Linked DNA regions of Homo sapiens: region 2 is linked to region 1. Evidence: fine-mapped expression QTL. Tissue or cell type: subcutaneous fat. Region 1 holds a variant in brackets; the other region holds the start of a gene. All regions are shown on one strand. Distances are between the middles of the regions.

Evidence for each region. PIP is the estimated chance that this variant, and not a neighbour inherited with it, causes the effect.
Region 2: it holds the start of ACYP1, and the variant in region 1 is fine-mapped to the expression of ACYP1 in subcutaneous fat (GTEx, PIP above 0.99). The same link has a PIP of 0.9 or more in esophagus mucosa.

Annotation. Positions count from the first base shown.
Region 1 is chr14:74,940,586-74,948,689 of GRCh38, forward strand. It overlaps PGF (placental growth factor), which reads right to left. Exons shown (of 7, transcript NM_002632.6): 4 at 7,922-7,998; 5 at 5,794-5,823; 6 at 5,628-5,690; 7 at 1,249-2,148. The coding sequence ends at 2,121. It overlaps LOC107984690 (a long non-coding RNA gene), which reads left to right and starts at 2,144. Exons shown (of 3, transcript XR_001750826.3): 1 at 2,144-3,847; 2 at 4,655-8,104. RefSeq lists a silencer at 5,874-5,923. The variant A/G (reference allele first, on the strand shown) is at 3,667.
Region 2 is chr14:75,060,672-75,068,775 of GRCh38, forward strand. ACYP1 (acylphosphatase 1) reads right to left here and starts at 3,353. Exons shown (of 3, transcript NM_001107.5): 1 at 3,283-3,353; 2 at 2,799-2,890. The coding sequence starts at 2,882. RefSeq lists an enhancer at 3,524-3,693.

The sequences.
Region 1 (8,104 bases):
ACACACACACACACACACACCCCTTGCAGGTCAGAAGCAGAGTGGAGTTTGATAGTAAGTGGTTTGGATTAAAAAAAAAATAGGCCTGGCATGGTGGCTCATGCCTGTCATCCCAGCACTTTGGGAGGCTGAGGCGGGTGGATCACTTGAGGTCAGGAGTTCAAGACCAGCTTGGTCAACATGGTGAAACCCTGTCTCTACTAAAAATACAAAAATTAGCCGGGCATGGTGGCGCACGCCTGTAATCCCAGCTACTCAGAAGGCTGAGGCAGGAGAATCGCTTGAACCTGGGAGGTGGAGGTTGCAGTGAGCCGAGATTGTGGCACTGCACTCCAGCCTGGGCGACAGAAGGAGACTCCGTCTCAAAAAAAAAACCATTAAAAAATAATAAGAAGATTTATTTTTTTCCTGCCAAAGCACTGAGGAGGAAGACGGAAGGAACTGGGGGGTAAAAGGCAGAGAAATCCGGGCAGCATCTGCTGGTCCTTGCGTCTGTTCAGCAGCCCGAGCAGGCTATACGTGCTGCCGTTCAGCGCCCTGAGACCCAGCCCAGGATGTCTATCAGGAGGGCCGGAGGAGTTCGGGAGTCCTTGCGGCACTGGGCTGGGGCAGCCCTAAGCCCTGGGAGAGGAGGAGATTGTGCTCTTGATGCTGTTAAAAAGTGGCTGGGACCAGCCTCTCCTCAACTTTGGAAACAAAACTACATCTTGGGAGCTCCTCGTTAGGGAAGGGGCGACCCCAGGGTGCTGTAGAAGCAGGTTGGGCGACCTCCGGGGCAGCCTTGAAGTGGCCTCCACAGGAACAGTCTCCAGTGACCACCCAGGGCCACCGAGACTTGAGCCTGGGCCCCAGTAGAAATGTGTCAAAGCCAGAAGAGCCATCTAGCCAGGCCCCTCAGGTCAGAGATGAAACGTGAAGGCAGAGGGAAGCCCAGTGCCACTCGGTGAGTTATAGACAAAGCCAGGCCTCTGACCCCCGCTTCAGTGCTCTTAACTCTCCATCAGCCATTTCACCTTCTTGGGCCTAAGTGTCCTCAGCTGTCAAAAGGAGGAAGGAAGGAGCAAGCTAACATGTTGTCGTGAGCTGTGACATGCCCTCTCGTCGACTGAGCGAGGCTTTTGAGATAAGGAAACTGAGGCTCGGAGAAGGTGCTGTGCTCTTCCTGTTACACCCCGATCCCTGGGTCTGTCTGGCTTCCGTTCCCGGCTGACGCTCACTGCCCCGGAAGACACACCCACTAGATCAGCGTTTCCACACTAGAATACTTTATTCAAGAGAATCTGGCTTGGCAGTCAGATGGCCCTGCAGGGACAGCTTGTGGGGGTGCCAGGGCCCTTGGGGAACCTGCTCCCCTGCCACTGCCTTCAGCTGGGACGCACAGGCTCCTCCCCTGGTGACCTCATCCCCACTGGCTGAGCTGTTTCTCATCCAGGCAGCTCTTTCTCCAGCCCGGGGCCCACTCTGTATGTGTCTCTTAGGGGGGGCAGGGTGGTGGCACCTTGGCCGGAAAGAACAATGTCCCAGTACAAGCAAATGGCAAAGTGTGAGGGGAGATCACGGGGGACAAGGAGTGGCAAAAGCCCCCAGGCAACCACTGTTCTCCAGAGCTGAATGTTCTGATCTTCAGAAGAAGAGGGGGAAGTGGCTGGATCCCCTCCGCCCGCTGCCGGCCTTCCCACCAGCCAGGCCGTGGCGGCCCCAGCAGGATCCGCATCCCTACTTTGGACAGGAGCTCCGAAAGCAAGGGCTGCTTGTCTGTGCAGAGCCTGAGGCCCAAGAACAGGTAGCAGGGCCCCCTTCTTTCCTTCTGCAGGCCCCTGGAGACCTCCAGGGCCTCTGGGGCCTAGCTTGCCCCTCACGAGGCCACGTGTCTTGCTTCTTTCAAAGCGGAAGCTCCCAGGGGTCTGTGGCTGGCTTCTCTCTTTCTCTCACGTTGTTGAAGGCACTGAATTCCTGAGGGTCCTGTCCTTCCCTGCCCCTCGTCTTGAAGGGAGCGAGGCATTCAGCAGGGAAACAGTTGGCTAATAAATAGAGGGCAGGTACCAGCAGGAGTCACTGAAGAGTGTGACGGTAATAAATACACGAGCCGGGTGCGGGGTCTCTCTCCTCCAAGGGGTGGGTTACCTCCGGGGAACAGCATCGCCGCACCTGCCAGAGACCAAGCACAGACGGGGCGGGTATCAGCACACTGTGGAGGGTGCGGTCTCCTCCTATGGAGGAGGGGGCAGGCCCAGAGGAGGAGCTTGGGCAGGGAGCATGGGGAGGGCGCAGTGCTCCTGGGTCCCTGCTTGCTTCAAGCTGAGGAGAAGCTGGGAGCTACCCTTCACCAAACACTTACCCATGTGCCCAGCCCTGTGCCAAGCACTGTCTTCTTAACCCTCAACAACCTTCCATGAGGAAGGCACCCTGATTATTCTTGTGAAGATTAGGAAACTGAGGCCCAGAGAGGTGAAGAAGCTTGCCTGTGGTCACACGGCCAGTCGGTGACAGAGCCACATTTGAACCTAATCACACTCCATGCAATCATGCCTCTGATTACCCTAAGACAGCAGTCTCCAAACAGGGGAGTACCGCTAGACGCACGTGAGGCCTGAGTACTGACGGTTTTAAAGAAATCCATTTTCAGCCTCCAGGTCTACATTGCCTTAAAATTATTTTTGTGAGGCAGTGGCTGAGATCTGCTTCTCTGGCCACAACACATCTTGCTCATTCTAAATCCTCATAAAGTGCTTTGCTGCCAGGTAAAAGTATTCTGAGGACATGAAAAAAAGAACAATTTGAGATATTGATGTAGGTCTTGAGAAAGAAAATATGGCTAATGACTGGGTAACCAAGGCTTTCAACAAAACTGAAGAACAGCTTAACCAAATTGTCAGCCAGGATATCATGAGAAGTAATTTGTTCTTAGCAGAGCACCTTGAGATTTCTGGCAAATAACTTGGAAGGAAGGAGTTCAAGTAATTGAGTGACATCTAGTCTCATTTACTTATTTATGTGAACATGGTTTCTCAACCTTCTCATCAATAAAAAAATGATAAACAGGAATTAAATTAATGCAGAATCCTGTCTCAGTCTGGCAGGAAGTAACATTCATTAATGGATTCATTCACTAATTGAAACGAGGTAGCCACATCCATCTCATTGAGATGCATTCCCAATCAAATTGATTGTATTTTTATGTTGAACATCTATTAAAATAGGAAGTATTTGTGCTGTTTTGACCAAATGGTGCTACTAAGAATTATTTTGATAATTTATTCCAGGAGAAAATTTAATTTAGGTTTATGCTCACAGGAAATTTAAAATAATTCAAACTCATATATCATTTTTTTGTGGCAGATAAATATGACAAGGTAATCAATAAAAGACTTCTGAAAATTAAAAGTACTGTTACACTAGGCTGAAATTCTTGGGGGTGGGGAGTGAAATGGAAATACAAGTTCCAGGAAAAAAGAAACAATGTAAATATATAATTATGAAAGGAAGTGTTCCTGTATTTTTTTTTTTTTTGCTTGTTAATTTTCTTTTTTTTTTTTTGAGACGGAGTCTTGCTCTGTCCCAGGCTGGAGTGCAGTGGCGTGATCTCGGCTCACTGCAAGTTCCGCCTCCCGGGTTCATGCCATTCTCCTGCCTCAGCCTCCCGAGTAGCTGGGACTATAGGCACCC[A/G]CCACCACACCCGGCTAATTTTTTGTATTTTTAGTACAGATGGGGTTTCACCATGTTAGCCAGGATGGTCTCGATCTCCTAACCTTGCGATCCGCCCGCCTTGGCCTCCAAAAGTGCTGGGATTACAGGTGTGAGCCACCGCGCCTGGCCTGCTTGTTCATTTTCTTAAAAGTGGATGATGGTGAGTATAACATTAAAATGGCGTATTTAATAGGATACACCTGGAGAGTGTTCTACAATAGCTTTGTATTAAAATATTAATAATATGCCAGAAATTATATCCTTTGTAATGACTTATACTTTTTTTTTTTTGAGACAGGTTCTTACTCTGTCACCCAGGCTGAGGTGCAGTGGATCTATCTCGGCTCACTGCAGCCTTGACCTCCCAGGCTCAGGTGATCATTCCACCTCAGCCTCCTGAGTAGTTGGGACTATAGGCACATGGCACCACGTCCAGCTAGTTTTTGTATTTTTTTTGTAGAGACGAGGTTTCACCATGTTGCCCCGGCTAGGCTTGAACTCCTGGCCTCAAGCGATCCACTCGCCTCGGCCTCCCAAAGTGCTAGAATTACAGGCATGAGGTACTGAGCCTGGCTTGACTTATAATTCTGATGAAAATGTTCAATGTCAACTTAAGAATGGGCAAGGGAGCACATGGGCTTTTGGAATTCTTTTTTTTTTTTTTTTTGAGACGGAGTCTTGCTCTGTCACCCAGGCTGGAGTGCAGTGGCGTGATCTCGGCTCACTGCAACCTCCGCCTCCCGGGTTCAAGCGATTCTCCTGCCTCAGCCTCCCAAGTAGCTGAGATTACAGGCATGCACCAACACGCCCAGCTAATTTTGTATTTTTAGTAGAGATGTGGTTTCACCGTGTTGGTCAGGCTGGCCTCGAACTTCTGACCTCAAGTGATCTACCCACTTCGGCCTCCCAAAGTGCTGGGATTACAGGTGTTAGCCACTGCGCCCGGCCACTTTTGAAATTCTTTCAGGAGATTCCCGAGTGAAATGTCTGAAGACTGCTGCCTTGGGAACAGGAGCCACGGGACACTTTCTGCCTCCGGCTGCCGGCGGGTAACTCGGGCCTGGATGGACTTCCCTGCCAGCTTGTTTCCCAAATTGCCGCGCGGGCCCAGAAAAGAGATGAGAGCATAAACCCCTAGGGGGCGCAGTCCCCAGGATCCCTGTCTTCATGGAGTGGGGCTCATGGGGTCAGGGCTTGGGTCAACTCCACTCCATAGCACGAAATGACTTCCTGGAGTCACGTGCGTGGGGGAGGCTTAGCCCCTGAAGGAGAGCCACCTCTCTTCAGTGACTGATTGACTGTGCACGTGAAATATTTTATTTTTTCTATTTACTCTCACAGATTTGGGTTTTCCCTCCTCTCATCCTTCTCTCCCAGCCACACTCAGGCCTGGGGCTCCATTCTGCTGCCCACAAGGTACGAAGTGGGTTAGAAGCAGCAAGGGGACCCACAGGCAAAAATACTCCTGGGAGACAGTGGCGAGGGGCACATGTTCCCCGGGGCTACTAGGAAGTGGCCCCAGATAACGTCTCAGCTGATGACAGACTTTTAATCACTAAAAGGTAAACACTAATGTGCAGGAATCCTGTTTGTTTGCTCACAGATGTACCTGACACACAGTAAGTGCTCAGTAAATGTTTGTAGAGTGACTGAATGTTTGCTGGACCTCCTGCCCCTCATTCTACACAGAGAAAAGCTAGGCTGACAAAGGTGAAATGATTTGTTGAAGGTCAATGGAAACCTAGGGCTAAGCCGGGACAAAAACCAAGGTCCACTGATGCTTCCTGGGCCCTAGAGTCTTGAGGAGGTGCAGCTCCCTGTTCTGCCCCCAAGACTGGCCTCAGTCCTGCCTCTCCCCCTCCCCAACCTAACCCTGGCGGCAAGGCGGGGCTCCCCTCGGGCCCAGCCTCCTCGCCATCCCTGGGACCCCGCACACTCACAGGTGGCAGTCTGTGGGTCTCTGCTTCTCTCTCCTCCTCTTCCCCCTGCCCTTGGGTCTCCTCCTGCAATAAGCCAAGCGTCAGGACAAGGTGGCTGGGGAACCCCATGCTAGGACAGAGGCTGGCAGGCCCGAGAATAGCCCCGAGCCCCAGCCAAACCACTTACCTTTCCGGCTTCATCTTCTCCCGCAGAGGCCTAGGGAAACAGACAGAGAGAGGGGCAGAGGAACGTTAGGAAAGCAATAAGTGGGGCTCCCTGCCGCCCGGACAGGTCCCCTCCGACATCCCCAGTCCTGGTCCTGCAGCTGACACTGAGGCCACTAGGGGGTAGCATGGAGTTGGCAAGGGAGAGGTGGCCAGAGCCTCAAGGCTTCACTCCCACTCCAGGCTCTGGTGACCCCACCACGAGAGGGACAAATCAACCTCCTGGGGACCCCTGCCACCCGCTTCTGCACTTCTCAGCCTCTTGGCATCAAATTTGGTTGTTTCTGTCTGTTCTCTGTTGCTTTTTCTTTCTCACTTTCTTTGCTGCTTTTTTCCGTTCCTTCCAGGGTGCATTCTGGGAATTTCCTCAGGGACAGGAGATGATGGCCAGACAGCGGACTGGCTGCCTGTCAGGGCACAGCCCCACTCCATCCGGAACAACATGGGGAGTGAGCGACGGGGTGGGAGGAAGGAGGGAGCATCAGCCCTGAAGTCACCAGGCATGTCTGGGCTCTGCCTCCCAGGGCTGTGGCTGTTGGCCCAGAAGCAAGAAGAAAGGTGTCCCTGTTGCCTGGCCCCTGGCAGGGGATAGGGCCTCAGTCTTCACTGGGAACAGTGGGTAGAGACATGGGACAGCATGGTAGCAGTCAGCTTTGGGGCCAGGACATGCTACCCTCAGCTGGTTCCTCCCTTGGGAGCCAGGGCAAGGTACCAGGGCCTCTTGGGACTGTCTGGTTGTACCTCTCCATATTGGGCAAGTGACAGACACTCTTGGAACCTCAGTCTCTTCATCTGCCTGCCCCAAAAGAGTGGCTGTCAGGGCAAAGGGGATGGAGAAGGTGACTCTGGGTCACCACCCAGCATTGCACCCAGGAGGGTTCATTACCGAGCTCTTGTTATATGGCTAAGCTCTGGCTTGGAGGGATGGGTGGAAACAAGTTGAGGCAGGGTCTCCAACACTCCAACAAAAGGGGCAGCCATAGCCCTGCCCAGGAGGCAAGGCTAAGCCTGGGGGCTATTAGAAAAGTGGTCATGGCCATGAAAGGTAGCCTGAAAAACGAAGGCTTACGAGTTAGGTCAGGGCCCAGAATCCCTCCTCCCACACTCACTAGCTGTGATAAATCATGAAACTGTATTGAGCCTTGATTTTCTCATCTGTAAAATGGGGATGACAATAGGGCCTACCTCCCAGGGTTGTTATGAGAGCAGGAACCTTGCTCACCACTGCATCCCATCAGGACAATGCCTGGCATGTGGTAGGTGCTCAATAAATGTATGTGACTAAATGAGAAACATTCAAGTGCCTCCTGCGGGGCTAGGCACAGAATAGGTACACAATAAGTGGTAGTCTTCCCTCCTGCCGCCCCTGGCTAGGGCTCTGGACTTCTAGTCTGGTGCCTTCATCCATGGCCCAGTAGTACCAGGAGCAGCAGCTCAGCCCATTTCTCTCTTCCCTGAACCTAGCTGGCAGTGCCAGGCCTGTTGCTCCTGCTAACCAATGTTCCAAGTGCCCCCAGCACAGGCAGCAAGACTGGTGCTGGTCAGAGGCTCTGTGGATTGGGAGGGGCCGTAGAGGGGTGCTGCAACATCAAGGAAGCCACAGTGTCACTCTTCTTCTGCCCCTTTTCTCCTACCCGAGCTTGTCCTTCTTGCTGCTTCTCAGCCCCGTTTGCCCGCTCCTGTGGGCACACAGCTTGCCCCAGAACGAAGTTCAGACTTGCAATGTCTTTGCCTCCAGGCACCTCTTTCAGAGGCCCGTGGCAGCTGCCTCCCATCCCAGAGAAGGGGAACGACACGCACCGAACCCCTGCGAGGCTGGGAGGGACCCACCCTCTCTCTTCCCTTGCAGTATCTCAACAGCTGTACCCCAGCTGCTGGGACCAGCTCCCTTGGCAAAACTGGCTGGTGGGGGGACAAAATGAATGGTAGCCACCCCTGGTCCTGCCCTCTTGGTCTCCCTCAGTCTGGAAAAAAGTTCAGCCCGCAGCGGGGATGGGCAGCCTTTGCCTCTGCCCTGGGACCCATCTTTGCTGAGGCTGCCAAGAGGACGGGGGCCTTTCCTTGCTACCCACCCGACCCCGGAGACCTACCGGCATTCGCAGCGAACGTGCTGAGAGAACGTCAGCTCCACGTAGGAGGGCCGGTCCCCAGAACGGATCTTTAGGAGCTGAAGGAAGAAAGAGTTGATGCCTGGATTGGGGAGTGGCCCACGAGTTTCCGGCACTCTTCTCTCTCTCCTTGTAAGGAGAACCCGACTCTGTTTCCTGCTAGCC
Region 2 (8,104 bases), 120 kb after region 1:
AATACATGCTACAGTGTAGATAAACCTTGAAAACAATATGTTAAGTGAAAGGAGCCAGTCACAAAAAAAGGCCACATTTGTATGATTCCATTTATATTAAATATCAAGAATAGGCTGAACACGGTGGCTCATGCGTGTAATCCCAGCACTTTGGGAGGCTGAGGTAGGTGGATCACCTGAGGTGAGGAGTTCAAGACCCAGCCTGGCCAACATGGTGAAACCCCATCTCTACTAAAAATACAAAAGTTAACTGGGCATGGTGGTGCATGCCTGTAATCCCGGCTACCTGGGATGCTGAGGGAGAAGAATCACTTGAACCCAGGAGGCAGAGGTTGCAGTGAGCCGAGATCACGCCACTGCACTCCAGCCTGGGTGACAGAATGAGGCAGAGTTGAGACTCTGTCTCAACAACAACAACAACAACAACAACAATCTAGAATAGGCAAATCCATAGAGACAGAAAGTAGGTTAGTGGTTGCCAGGGGCTCAGGGGATGAGGAGTGAGTGCTAACCTAGGTAGGGGTTTCTTTTTGGGATGATGAAAATGTTCTGGAATTAGTGCAACATTTTGTGAATATACTAAAAATCACCAAATTATACACTTTAGGAGGATGGGTTTTATGGGATGTAAATTATATTCCAAGTTTTCAAAAGTCCCTGAATTATTATTTGTCACTTCTCTAGAAATGAAGGAATTTAAATAAGAGGCTAGATAATATCAACAGCAAACATTGCAGCAAAACAACTGTTCAAATGAACATATATATTTAAATGATTATAAATAGTAAAGAATAAGCTACAAGCCTAATTAAGAAAAAATAGATGTCATTTTATATGCAGTTTTCCAATCAATATTTGTTTTTCTGCATTCTGTTATTCTCTCTTTAAACTGGGGAGAGGGGCAGGTAGAGAAAGATGGGCTATGCATACCACTATCTGACCCTTTTCCCTCAACAACTTTGACTAATCTTTGAAGCTGTTATCTCAATCACCTTAATTTACAGGAACTTACCTGCATAACTGGTAGCAAAGCTAACTGGAACACAGCTCTTGCTGTGAGTTTCAGCAATTCTGTTTTCAACAGTCATTTCCTATTTGAGTGTCAGATGGGAAGAAATGATTTTTGAATAATTAGAAAAAGAGGTATTGGCCGGGCACAGTGGCTCACACCTGTAATCCCAACACTTTGGGAGGCCAAGGTGGGCGGATCACCTGAGGTTGGGAGTTCAAGACCAGCCTGACCAACATGGAAAAACCCTGTCTCTACTAAAAATACAAAATTAGCGGGGCATGGTGGCACATGCCTGTAATCTCAGCTACTTGGGAAGCTGAAGTAGGAGAAACGCTTGAACCCGGGAGGCGGACGTTGCGGTGAGCTGAGATCGTGCCATTGCACTCCAGCCTGGGCAAAAAGAATGAAACTCTGTCTCAAAAAAAAAAAAAAAAAAAAAAAGAAAAGAAAAGAAAAAGAGGTATTGGCTGGGTATGGTCACTCATGCCTGTAATCCCAGCACACTGGTGGGAGGCCGAGGCAGAAGGATCACTTGAGCCTGGGAGTTTGAGACCAGCCTGGGCAACATAGCTCTCTGTTAAAAGAGAAAAAAAAAAAAAAAGCTGGGTGTGGCGGCATGCACCTGTGGTCCCAGCTACTTGGGAGGCTGAGGAAGGAGGATCATTTGAGCCTGGGAGGTTAAGGCTGCAATAAGCTGTGACTGTGCCACCATCCTTCAGAAAAAAAAAAGAAAAAGGGAAAGAGGTATTGACAATTCACATTCATGTTTCAAAGATTCCTTCCAGGTTAGAATTTGAATTTTAAGTACCACAGTCCCAGGAATGAGACACTTAAGAAGTTCTGCAGTCCTGGCCGGGTGCGGTGGCTCACACCTGTAATCCCAGCACTTGGGGAGGCTGAGGCGGATGGATCACGAGGCCAGGAGTTCAAGACCAGCCTGGCCAAGATGGTGAAACCCTGTCTCTACTAAAAATACAAAAAAAAAAAAAAAAAAAAAAGAAGTTTTGCAGTCCTAACTCATTATCTGTGGGATTAGCGACACACTGGGAAGGCAATAGCCAATACCTACAGAAGGCAGAGGGTAAATTGAGCTTGCATTTGTGTGTGCCTGTTGAGGGAAGATTAGCCACATTAAAGCAGAGGTAGAGGCTGCCAACAGTTTGTCCATCCCCTCAAATAATCCTTTATTGCTCTAGGAAGAATACCAGGCTCCACATTCAGTGTTCCCATCACCTATTCTGGAATGGATAAAGAGTTTTTAATAAGAAAAACGTCAGCTGGAAAAGGTAAATGTTCTTTCAAAACCAAAAAAGAATAGAAAGAAATTAAGTGGAGAACTGAGGGAAGCTTGGAGAAAGAGGTCTGAAGAAAGTGCAGCAGCTGCAGAGGAAGCATTTATATATGTTATATACATGACATCAGGTCATCTAAATGCCAGCTCTTCAATCAATGTTAGCCTTTCTATAAGAAACCTGACTTGGTTTGATGATGCCACAACGGCGAGCACTGGGGAAGCCCTCTATTTCCCTTGGAAGAGAGAAGCTCATTAATATGTGTATCTAGATGCTCAGGCACCACTGACTAATAATAACAGCAGGGTGATCTTCCATTTACACCATGTTTTACCGATTGCACAGCATTTTCATACTCATTGCTCTACAAACTACCTCTTTGCCATGCAGCTACCAAATAGCCAGCGGCTTCTAGTTCACATTTGTCAAGAACACGTCCCTTGTTCCTATGCCCACAACCTAGGTTACCACCCCAAAGCCTGCAGGCCACATACCTGAGTATGCTTACGGAAAAACACCCCTTGCACCTTCCCAAAAATTTCATAATCCACTGATATCAGGGTGTTTCCTTCTGCCATGCTCAAACCTGTCAGAAACCAGGAAAGCAGAAGAGTGAAGGGCTATTATTCCAGGACCCGCAAGCCTGAGTCAGAAAGGGCCACACCCACCCCTGTCCATCCTTAACCATTGCGACCTCTCCCCGACTTCAAGGTCCTGGAAATGGAAACGTGAGTGGATGTGATAAGGTGTGTGTGAAGGAAGAACCAGACGCCGGGAGAGGGAGCTTCGGATCGCAGCTGCCCGCTGAAGCCTCTTCTGGGGAAATAACCTGAGGACCGATGACCTCCTTACATCCATGCCCGGTCCCGCTCCCTCACTACCAGAATTCCCTGCTACTAACTCCCAGAATCCCCTGCTACTAACATTTTAGGGCTAATCGACCTGAGAAGCACACCCTGGGGGCCCCTGGCGGCTCACCCTCCTTGTCTTCCCCACCGGCTGCCAGGATCACTCCGGGACCACCACGCCAACGGCTCACCAAGGCGCGCAAACCTCCGCGCCCGGAAGTTTAGTGTGTAGCTGCTCCTTCGCTGTCGCTCATGCCCATCACCTCCAGCTGACCAATCAGAGACGGCGCCTCGGCCCGGGCCCGCCCAGAAGGTGGGATTTCAGGACGCGGTTGTCCGGCAACCCAAAAGCTTTGGGTTGGGGATCTGTCCAGGAACTCGGCTGGGCCTCCACAAACCTAGCCCTCATCGCATCTCAGTCAACAAGCGCAACCCTCTTCTCATTTTCTCATGAGGAGAAAGGCATAGACGAAGAAGTACATGGGGATACATTCAATCATTCAATTAAATACTGACTGACAGCTACTGTGTGCCAGGCACCTGTTCTAGGTGACCAGGCAAACATCAGTGAACAAAACAGGATCCCTGTCCTGAGGAGCTTAATTCTGGAGGTGAGAGACAAACAGCACACATTAAACATCATAAATAGCTTGTAATCTCAGCACTTTGGGAGGCCGACACGGGCGAATCACTTGAGGTCAGGAGTTCGAGAGCAGCCTGGCCAACATGGTGAAACCCCGTTTCTACCAAAAATACAAAAATTGGCCGGGCATGGTGGCGGGCGCCTGTAATCCCAGCTACTCGGGAGGCTGAGGCAGGAGAATCGCTTGAACCTGGGAGGTGGAGGCTGCAGTGAGCCGAGATTGCCCCACTGCACTCCAGCCTGGGCAACAGAGGGAGACTCTGACTCAAATAAATAAATTAATAAATAAAAAAATAAACATCATAAATATGTTGAGTAGGATACATTTAACCTTTCTGTCCTTTTTCATTCAGTTCTCCTTAAAGTTTGGGTCATAACAATCTGGAATAGGGGATTACGGGGCATAAGTGCACAGGAGGTCCCAATGGAGGTTATGTCTGCTTCTGGGCTTCTGGAAGCTACTCACCGGTCTCCTTTACTAAGAAAATGTCAAATAATGCTTGAACAAATAACCAGCTAACTACACAAATAAAGCAAGAGCACAAGCAAAATAACTCATGGCTCCAGAATTACAGTTGAGTCAGTCAATCTAAGCCAAATGGCCAAACTACACGAATTTATTTTGGGAACAGGGAATTGTCAAGGGGGATGTGGATGAAGATGGTTAAAATTAGAGTTGATGTGTAAACATTTGAATCCAGCTACCCTTATGATTCATGTGTGTGAAGGAAAACTGTGGTGTTTATTGATCCTCTGTGGATTGACTGTATACATTACACCTCTTCATAACGTAAAGACTCCTTATGTGAATATGCCAGGTTGGCAGACTTGACAATGAGATATGGGTTTGTGACAGTAGGCACGGAAATTCATCATTCTGCTAGTTCCCCGCTAGAGTGAGGATCCATATCCTAGAGAATCATACAACCTTAGTGCTGAGAGGTGGGGGGTTGGTGGTGAACAAGCTGGATTGAATGTTGTACTTGGCAATATTTGAAAATAACTCTAAATAGAGTATCTTGCTAATGGTATTTCTTTCTCTAAAATTCATTTAAAAAATAGTTTATAGAATTCAAAACTTACTGAGTGTCTAATACGAATGGGGCACTCTAGGATATACAAAGATGAATGATATAAAATCTTTGCCCTCAAAGAGTTTTTAATTTAGTGTAGGGGCACAAATGCATGCAAATAATGACAATAAAATATATGGCATGATAATTTAATTCCATGAAAATCCATTGAGAGCTCATCAGGAACCAGCCCTGTGCTATAACAAGGACAGAAAATATTACAAAGGAGCAAACAAATTAATTCTGATTGGGAAGACAGGGAAAGAGTTCTTGGAGGAAACAGCATTTAATCCAAGGTCACACAACCAGTAAGTGATGGAGCTGGGATTTGGTTCCAGAGTCAATCCCCATGAATGCTATGCTCTACCAGCTCCCAGTATGTGGAGCTTAGAGTAATGTAGTACCATGGAGATGAAGAAGTACAAGTAGCCAGTTGTGGCTAGACCAGGGGTTTGCTACCCTGCTTGTGCATCAGGATCTTTGGGGAAGCTTTAAAAATGTTAATCCTCAGGCCTCACCCCTAGATATTGCTTTCCAAGTAGTCTTAACACACAGTCAGGGATGAGACTCACTGGGTTGAACTCTGTGGCTTATTAAGGGGAGGCAAAACTGAAAAGGTAGGCTGGACCTAATCTGGGAGGTAGAGATGCCATGCTAAATTATGCATTTCAACTTTATTCTATAGGTAAAGAAGAAGCTACTGGGGAGGGAAATGGTAGGATCAGAAGCATTTAGTAATTAGCTTGATTTAATCACTGCACAATGCATACATTATCAAAACATCACTTTGTACACTGCAAATATAGATATAATTTTTGCTTGTCAATTATATTTTAATAAAGCTGGGGGGGGGTGGAGAAATATTTAGACTGATTATTTTGCCTGCAGCATGAAGGATGGGTTTGAAGAGCAGATATTGAAGGCAAGAGCAGAAGTTAGGAGGGCTATGCCATCCCAAGGAGAAGTGAGGAAAAACTCACCTGGGGCAGCAGAAATGTAAAGGAAGAGTCATATATGAGAGACATTGCAGAAGTAAACTCAATAGGCCAGGCGTGATGGCTCACGTTTGTAATCCCAGCACTTTGGGAGGCTAAGGCAGGTGGATCACCTGAGGTCAGGAGTTTGAGACTGATGAAACCCCATCTCTACTAAAAATACAGAAATTAGTTGGGCGTGGTGGTGCACACCTGTACTTCCAGCTACTAGGGAGGCCAAGGCAGGAGGATTGCTTGAACCTGAGAGGCAGAGGTTGCAGTGAGCTGAGATCGCGCCACTCCACCCCCATCTGGATGACAGAGCAAGACTGTCTCAAAGAAAAAAAGGAAGAAAACTCAATAAAACTTGTGATTAGTTAGAAGGAAGAGGCAACAAAGAGGGAAGCATGGAAGACTGATGCTGTGAGCATGCAAGGGCACACTGGAGAGGCAGATTTGAGAATGGGAGAGGATCAGAGTTTATGTTGTCTTACAGAATTTGAGGTTCCTAAGGAACAATCTTGTGGAGGTGTCAAATGGGCAGTCCTGAAATTTGAGTCTGTAACTAATGAGAAAGACTAAAGCTAAGCTGGCTGTCATTTAAACACAGGTGAAACCTGAAATTTCAGCATTTGGTTGAAATCATTAAAGAAGAGAATGTCTGGAACTACACACACACACACACACACACACACACACACACACACACACACATATATATGAAATAAGAGGGCTTCAGAAAACACTTAAATTTAGGGAGTAGATGGGGAAAAGATAAATGCCAGACTTGGAAGAAGATGGAGCAAGAACATGAAAGAAGAAACCAAGAGGGCACAGGAGAACTGAGAAGAGCATTCTAAGTGGGTGGATAATCAGTAATGTCACATGAGTAGGCTGAAAAAATGAAGCTTTTGTCTTTGGAAAGTCACTGGTAGCTTTGTAGTTAAATAAAGTGGAGAAAGTAGAAGACAGGCCACAATGAACTGGACAATGACGGGGAGATGAGGATATGTGGGCAGCAAATGTGGAGATTTCCATTAAGAAGTCTTGTGGAGAAGAGGAGAAATGAATGGGACTGTAATATGAAAGTTAGGTCAAGGGAAGTAAGGTTTGTTTTGCAGGGGAAAGTTGAGTATATGTTAAAACCAAAGAGACAGAGTTTATGGAGAGGTATAACTTGAAGTTAACAAGATGCAGACAGGGTGCCGTCTCTCACGTCTATAATCTCAGTACTTTGTGAGACTGAGGCGGGAGGATCTCTTTTGACTCCAGGGGTTTGAGACCAGCCTGGGTAACAAAGGGAGACCCTGTCTCTACAGAAAAAAAAAAAAGAAGTAAGCTGGGTGTGGGGGGCACACACCTGTAGTCCCAGCTACTCGGGAGGCTGAGGTGGGAGGATCACTTGAGCTGTGGAAGTTGAGGCTCCAGTGAGCAGTGATTGTGCCACTGCACTTCAGCCTGGGCAACAGAGTGAGGCCCTGTCTCAAAAACAAAGGCCAGGCCCGGTGGCTCATGCTTGTAATCCCAGCACTTTGGGAGGCTGAGACAGGCGGATCACCTGGGGTCAGGAGTTCAAGACCAGCCTGGCCAACATGGTGAAACTCTGTCTCTACTAAAAATACAAAAAATTAGCCAGGTGTAGTGGCAGACGCCTGTAATCTCAGCTACTCGGGAGGCTGAGGCAGGAGAATCACTTGAACCCAGGAGGCAGAGGTGGCAGTGAGCTAAGAGTGCGCCACTGCACTTCAGCCTGGGCAACAAAACAGGGCGAGATTCCGTCTCAAAAAACAAAAAACAAACAACTTTAAAAAACCCCAAAAACCAACAAAACAGAAAACAAAACAAAACAAAAATGCAGGGGTAAAGTGATGGAGTCAATTCCCGGAGGGTACTGAAAAGGACTAATTCAAGAGAACTCAATGGAACTCAATGGAAAGTCGCCCTTCTTTCTCATAGAGGAGAGGGAAGGAGAGAGAGAGAGGAGAGAGGGAGACAGACAGAGACAGAAACAGAGGAGAGAGGGAGAGGAGGAAGAAGAGAGAGAGACAGAGAGAGAGAGAAAGAGAAAAAGAAAGCCGGTAAATTCTGCTGAGGGAAGCTGTGGGAGTTGATAATCGGGACCCTGAGTGGAGTGGGAAACGTCTGGAGCTGCATATACGGAGAGGCGGTAGAGTCAACTAGGGATGAAAACGAGGAATTAAAAAAAAAAAAAAGACTGATCTGGAGGGTCCACCAAGGAATTTCCTTGTAACGGGTAACAGC